Homo sapiens: one gene and its partner. The protein of the gene in region 2 interacts with the protein of the main gene of each other region in a biochemical or structural test. Each region holds a gene or a part of one and is shown on either strand. Other genes may lie near its edges.

Evidence for each region. Proteins that work in one complex are often made in the same cells at the same time.
Region 1: the proteins of PRKACA (region 2) and CREB1 form a complex in vitro, tested with the Homo sapiens proteins (2 studies listed by BioGRID, with this or other methods).

What each region holds. Positions count from the first base shown.
Region 1 is NC_000002.12:207,578,342-207,582,218, reverse strand, and holds part of CREB1 (cyclic AMP-responsive element-binding protein 1), read right to left. Parts: intron 2,699-3,877; coding exon of another isoform or gene 2,653-2,698; exon of another isoform or gene 398-2,652; coding exon of another isoform or gene 273-397; exon of another isoform or gene 73-272; coding exon of another isoform or gene 59-72; exon of another isoform or gene 1-58.
Region 2 is NC_000019.10:14,096,996-14,100,872, forward strand, and holds part of PRKACA (cAMP-dependent protein kinase catalytic subunit alpha), read right to left. Parts: coding exon 3,831-3,877; intron 896-3,830; coding exon 769-895; intron 680-768; coding exon 584-679; intron 489-583; coding exon 366-488; intron 1-365.

The DNA.
Region 1 (3,877 bases), on a different chromosome or scaffold from region 2:
AATTACTGTGGTGGTTTTAACATATGACCACAAATTTCTTTCATATTCTCCCTTTTAGGAGGTGGAATTTAATTCTCCTCCCCTTGAATATGGGCTGGACAAAGAGAAAAATGGTAGCTCAACAGTGGAGACACCTGGACAGCACTTTAACCAAGTGATCAAAGTTAATATCGCCAATTATGTATGTGCTCCCGGATGTGATGTTATGAGAAAGGCACACTATACCTCTGTGGAATTCCTCCCCAAAACCTATTATCTCAATCTATCCATAGAAAACACTGGACAAATGCAAACTGAGGGATATTCTAAAAGAAAACAGATCACTACTCTTCAAAAGTTACAAGGCCATCAAAGACAAGGAAACAAACTTTCACAGACTGAAGGAGACTATAATTAAATGCGATATGGTACCCAAACTGGATTATGTAAGTAAAAAAACTGGGGAAATAAAATGTATAATTCAGTTAATGGTATTATACCAATGTACTTTTATTTTTGATAAATGTACCCTGGTTATGTAATATACTAAGATTAGAGAAAGCTGGATGAAGGGTATCCGGAACTCTGTATTTTTAAAACTCCTTTGTAAGTTTAAAATTACTTAAAAATATATTAAAAATGTATATTTACCTTTGTACTGGTTTGAGTAAAAAAACTGACTTTAGAATGTTAACATTTTAGATGGTGAAATTAGAAGTAATTCAATTTTTAGGTAATGTTTCTTAATTTACTTATAATGAACATGTTTTACTTGTGTAATAATAAATTTAAAAAACCTGATAGTAATGTAAATACTCTTTGGTAACCTGCTTTTGTCCGAGAACATCTTCCCATCTTAATAAAAATACACCTTTATTTACTCTTAATGGCTAGTTGTATATAGTTGAATGGATATATTTTAATTCATATCAAATACATTTTAATTTTTTTAGAATTTTTCAAATTTTTTACCCTATCCATTTTCTAAGAATCTGCCTATTTATATCCCTCAACTCATTAGTCTTCTGACATTATTTGTTAAAATGTTTGCTACTTTATCTTTTACTTTCCTAAATAGGGGGTTTATAGTTTTATATGGTCAAATCCATTTAACCTTTTCCTTTGTTACTTCTGCCTTTAGGGAATCTGCTTTTAAAATCCCCCTACAATGTAAAGTTACATAAAGGCAAAGGTGATAGATTGTATTACTTTCACAATTTTTCACTCTCCACTTCCTGTAGGAAGAGTTCATTCCCACTCCACTGACTTTGGGCTTGTCCTTGCCTGTGCTGTGGCTAACAGATCACGAGTAGATGTAACGTTCACCAAAATCAAGCAAATGCTTTCAAAAGCATTGCCCTTTTCTCAAAGACGTGCTGCTCTATCTAGCCCAGGATCCTAGACCCAGATGGGCACATGAAGGAGAGCCACAGCAACTGACCTGCAGCTGCCAAAATGTAACAGAAGTGAGGAAGAAATTTTAAGACACTGAGATTCGTGGTTGTTACTGTAGCAACACAAATTAACAGAAGAGCTGTCTACACTTTCTTTTAGAATGTTTACCACTTACCTTCATCTTGAAATAAATGGCAATTTGGATAGTGATGAATTTTTTGGATTACAATCTTTTCCTATCAAACTTTAAGATAGGCTGTGTTTGATGTGCATAAGGGAAATTCATCCTAGTGAGCATGCTTAGGAGTGTGCTTCTCTTAACTTTTCCACTGAAATAGCCACACTAGAAGAGGAAACCAAATATGGAGACTCTGGGGGTGCAGCAAAACCACTGCTGGTATAAATTTCTTTTAAAACTCTTATTTTACCTTAAAAATAAGGTTTATTTCTCTCAAATATTTTAGCAAAATGAACATTCAAGGAAAGCACTCCACGTTCACCTCCTTAGGCTACACATCCCTAGCATACTGCCATGTGCTCTGGTTTGAGAGGCACAGCAGAAGATGGCTGCATACTGGAATCAGTGAAGTAGCATGTTTACAGGTTTTGGTGCCAGATATGGGTTCAAATTTCAGTTCTACTAATCTCATAAAGTGTGTGACCTTTGGCAAAATATTTGAATTTTCTGATATTTACCTTCTCCTCCTCTAAAGTGGGGATAAGCTTCTACCTCACTGTAGGTAGAATTAATAAAATAATATATACTGGAGCTTAATAAATAGCACTCGGCAGAAAGGTCAAAGCCAGAATATACAGAATTAAGAAGTATCAGCATATAAAGTAATGCCTGAAATACATGGGTATGGATGAAGGTTCAAAGGAAAAATTTGAAAAGTAGCCAGAAAACCAGGTGAAGTAAGCCAAGGAAGAGTTTAGAGTAATGAGAAGTCGAAAGTGTCAAATACTCCATAGAGTTAAAATTAAATGAAAGAAAATACTAGATTTGCCAAGTGGGAGGGAATTTGTACCTTTTTATAGACATATGAGCGGTATGCTAGTCATAGAAGCCAGATTCCAGTGAATGGAGGCTGAAAAAGTAAAAGCAGCAGTAATCTGGTAACAAAGGGGAAAAGGAACTATGGCAGAATCAATGAGAAGTTTCCTTTTTAAAGAGTAGGGTAACTATATCTAAGCAAAGTAATGTTATGAAAGAGTCCATGGTAAGTCGGGTAGTTTCCCTGAAGATCTCAGGCAAGCAAAGCCTGGTAGGAACTGTAGTTATGTGTGCCCTGTTCCTAACTTGTTGGTGGCAGTGGTCATAAATCTGAAAGAAAAATAAATAGAACAAAAAGGAAATTTGGTCTGCCAGTCAACGGGGGTAAACATTTTGTTCCACACAGCCAAACTACATAGACATAAACAGAAGTCCTTCTGTTGTTTTTTATAATCAAAAGGATTTATTTTTTGATTCTGCTCCTATGTTTGCTTTGAACTCTTTTCTTTAGTAAGCAGTGTTGTCTTAAATATTACTACTCAGCCTGTGCTTGAGACTTCTTGATCAGACTTGCTTCTAATTTTAAGTTAAAGGTTTCCTTATAAACATTTTTAAAAACTGAAAATATTTTAATTTTTATTTACAGATTTTAATTTATATTTTAAAATATATTTGAATTATGAATGCAGCTTTTATGCTTCTCTTTAGTAAAACTTAAATACTCAAAATCACAGATGGATGGAGCACAAATAAAAGTCACTTGAGGGCTGGGCACCATGGCTCATACCTGTAATCCCAGCACTTTGGAAGTCCGAGGAGGGTGGATCACAAGGTCAAGAGTTCGAGACCAGCCTGGCCAAAATAGTGAAATCATGTCTCTACTAATACAAAAATTAGCCAGGCGTGGTGGTGGGCACCTGTAATCCCAGCTACTCGGGAGGTTGAGGCAGGAGAATTGCTTGAACCCAGGAGGTGGAGGCTGCAGTGAGCTGAGATTGCACCATTGCACTCCTGCCTGGGTGACAGAGCAAGACTTCATCTCGGGAGAAAAAAAAAAAGTCACTTGGCTTGTTTCCAACTCTTTTTCTAATATCCCAGAAAAATCTCTGCCATTTCTCAGAGTTTAGATATAATTTACTAACATTGTGACAGCTAAGAATATTTTAGGAACAAAAAAGCTGATCTGAGCTGTGAAATTGCACACACACACACAAACCCATTTCAACAGAGCACTACAGTTACAAAGTGCTTTCAAAGGATTCTCTTACTTGACTCTTACAACAATACTTTGGGTGTGTGCTGGAATCCCATTTTACAAAACTGAGGTACAGAAGGTTAATACCTTCTCCCAAAATGGAGGGATAGGGCTAGGACTTGGAAGCCCTGCTTCTTTCACTTTATCAGTGTTTGAAGTATCCTGGGATGAACAGTGAGATACTTTCACTAATTTCAAACTTTTTAAACCTTTACATAACCTTATTTTCATTTTCTTTTGTTTGTCTCGGTCAC
Region 2 (3,877 bases):
GGAACAGGAACCAAATACATTCGTTTTTCTGCCTTGGAATTTGCGAAAACTCACACTAACTGGGATGAGGAGCGAAAAGGAGGGTCGTCTGGCAGGGCGGTTTGTGTTCTGTGGCCAAGATGTTCCCGTGAGGCTCGGGATTTTGGAAGCCCATGGGATTCTGGAACCGCGGGGTTGGGGCTGGACAGCAAGGGGGCTTGAGGTGTTGGCCTCAGTGTGGCCGGCGCGTCCAGCTTCACCACCTGGCCTGACTTAAGGAACTTCTAGATTATTCTGACAACAAGCAGGGCTCCCCAGGGAATAGGATGGGTGAGCAGGGAACGGTCTGTTTCTTCCAGGGCTGTGTCCCCACATCCGGACCTCACCTTCCCAGAGACGATCTTCTCATAGATCTGGATGGGCTGGTCTGCGAAGAAGGGCGGGTAGCCAGCGGCCATTTCATAGATAAGAACCCCCAGGGCCCACCAGTCCACGGCCTTGTTGTAGCCCTGGAGCAAGATGGGGGGGCACAGGGTGAGGAGGAGGCGAGAGCAGGAGAGCAGAGCCGGCCTCAGGGGAAGGGGAGGGCTGGGGAGGCTCCTACTTTGCTCAGGATAATCTCAGGGGCCAGGTACTCAGGGGTGCCGCACAAGGTCCAAGTGCGGCCCTTCACGCGCTTGGCGAAACCGAAGTCTGTCACCTGTGGGCACAAGAACAGGCAGTTGGCAGGGAGGAAGGGTCCAGGCCACGGCTTCCCCAGGGCTGCCCCTCGCCCGGCCTGGTGGGCACCTGAATGTAGCCCTGCTGGTCAATGAGCAGATTCTCCGGCTTCAGGTCCCTGTAGATGAGATCCAGCGAGTGCAGATACTCAAAGGTCAGGACGATCTGGGCCGCGTAGAAACGGGCATGGGGCTCACTGATGGGGACAAATGGGGAGGTGAACGTCAGTGGTCATGCCCCAAAATGGTCCAGCAGGTGGCCCTGCAGAGCCTACCCCAGAGGAAGACACCTCCAGTCCAGCCGTCAGAAACGCAAGGCACCTGATTCTTAGATAGCCCGACATGGGAAACAGCCTGTGGGTCCATCCACAGGAAAATGGAATCACAGACTGAGCTATAGTCATACAATGGAATTCCACTCACCACCACCACCGCCAACAGGACAGCCCATGCATCCACTCAACAATGTGGCTGCATTTCAAACTGATTATGTTAAGCAAAAGAAGACACAAAAGAACATGAATGATTCCATTTATATCATGTCCACGCCCAGACAAAACAAAGGCACGGTGTTTGAAGTCAGAAAGGACAACTGCCTTTGGTGGGGAGGTGACGTGTCAAGAGAGGGATTCGGCCCGGTGCGGTGGCTCACCCCTGTAATCCCAGCATTTTGGGGGGTCGAGGTGGGAAGATCGCTTGAGCCCAGGAGTTCGAGACCAGCCTGGGCAATATAGGCAAGACCTCACCTCTGTATGTATGTAGATATGTGTGTGTGTGTGTATATATATATATATATTTTTTTTTGATTAATTTATTTTTTTTAAGACAGTCTCGCTCTCTTGCCCAGGCTGGAGTGCAATGGCATAATCTCGGCTCACTGCAACCTTTGCCTCCTGGAAACAAGTGATTCTCTTGCCTCAGCCTCCTGAGTAGCTGGGATTACAGGTGTGCACCACCACGCCCGGCTAATTTTTATATTTTTAGTAGAGACGGGGTTTCACCATGTTGGTCAGGCTGGTCTCGAACTCCTGACCTTGTGATTCGCCCGCCTCGGCCTCCCAAAGTGCTGGGATTACAGGCGTGAGCCATGGCACCCGGCCTCCACCTCTGTATGTTATTGGAAAAAAAAAAAAAAAAAAAAGGGATTCAAGGGAATTTTCTTAGGTGATAGAAAAGTTCCATATACTGTTTTGGGTGGAGGTTAGGTAGCTATATACAACTGTCAAAACTTGTAGCATGGAACATTGAAGAACTGTGCATTTTGTTGTATGTAAAGTGAATCTATAGTTATCTATCTAAAATACAACTACAAGGCCAGCGCGGTGGCCCATGCCTGTAATCCCAGCATCTTGAGAGGCCAAGGCGGGGGGGGCGGATCACCTGAGGTCAGGAGTTCGAGACCAGCCTGGCCAACATGGTGAAACCCCATCTCTACTAAAAATACAAAAATTAGCCAGGCAAGGGGGCATGCACCTGTAGTCCCAGCTACTTGGGAGGCTGAGACAAGAGAATCACTTGAACCCGGGAGGCAGAGTTTGCATGGAGCCGAGATCGTGCCACTGCACTCCAGCCTGGGTGACAAGAGTGAAACTCTGTCTCAAAAAATAAAATCAAATAAAACTACGTATGTAAACTTATAAGTTAATAAGACAAATTTATAAGTTAAAAATTTTTTTTTTCTTTCAGCAGGGTCTGACTGGGTTACAACCCAGTCTGGACTGCAGCAGCGTGATCACGGCTTATGCAGTCTTTTTTTTTTTTTGCATATGTTGAACCAGCCTTGCATCCTAGGGATGAAGGTGGGCTCATGCAGTCTTGACCTCCCAGACTCAGGTGATCTTCCCACCTCAGCCTCCCCAGGAGCTGGGACTACAGGAATGTGCCACCACACCTGACTTTTTTTTTTTTTTTTTGTATTTTTTTGTAGAGATGGGGTCTTGCTATGTAAGGCTGGTCTCAAATTCCTGGGCTCTAGCAATCTGCCCACCTTGGCCTCCCCAAGTGGGATTATAGGGCATGAGCCACAGTACCCAGCCTGTATCTTAAACTTACAAATTTCTGTATATAGATTTATTTTATGTATAAAAATATATATTAAAATCTACACATATAAAACTGTCCACCTATATAAAATAAAATAATAGTATAATTTTTATTTTATTTTTTTGAGACGGAGTCTCGCTCTGTCACCCAGGCTGGAAGTGCAGTGGCGCGATCTCGGCTCACTGCAAACTCCGCCTCCCGGGTTCACGCCATTCTGCCTCAGCCTCCCGAGTAGCTGGGACTATAGGCGCCCGCCATCACACCCGGCTAATTTTTTTGTATTTTTTTAGTAGAGACGGGGTTTCACCATGTTAACCAGGATGGTCTTGATCTCCTGACCTCGTGATCCGCCCGCCTCGGCCTCCCAAAGTTCTAGGATTACAGGCACGAGCCACTGCGCCCAGCCAATTTTTTTTTTTTAAAAGAGACAAAACCTCACTATGCAGCCCAGGCTGGTCTCAAATTCTTGAGCTCAAATGATCTTCTCACCTCAGCCTCAGGACTAGTGGGACTACAGATGCATGCCACCTTTTGGGGCTCAAAAAATGCACAAAATCAACAACTTCAATTTTTTTTTTTGAGACGGCATGTCACTCTCTCACCCAGGCTGGAGTACAGTGGTGTGATCTTGGCTCACTGCAACCTCTGTCTCCTGGGTTCAAGTGATTCTCCTGCCTCAGCCTCCCAAGTAGCTGGGATTACAGGTGCCCACCACCATGCCCAGCTCAGTTTTGTATTTTTAGTGGAGACAGGGTTTTGCCATGTTGGCCAGGCTGGTCTCAAACTCCTGACCTCAGGTGATCTGCCCACCTTGGCCTCCCAAAGTGCTGGGATTACTGGTGAGAACCACCGTGCCTGGCAGCAACTTCAGTTTGGACACCTAAGTTGCCCTGTTTGCTCTGTTTTGTTTTGTGGTGGTTGAAATATCACATATTCCTCAGCAGAGGGGAAACAGAAACCCACAGGGTCTGGGAGACCACCTGCATGTTGAAGTATGCTGGACTCCTCTGCATTCCCAGGGGGCTTGGTCGTGCACTGCCACCTGTGGACACCCTGACAGCCTGATGTGATGGGGGGTGGCCCGCTTACCTGAACCTTCCGATCCGCCGTAGGTGTGAGAACATCTCCCCGCCGGG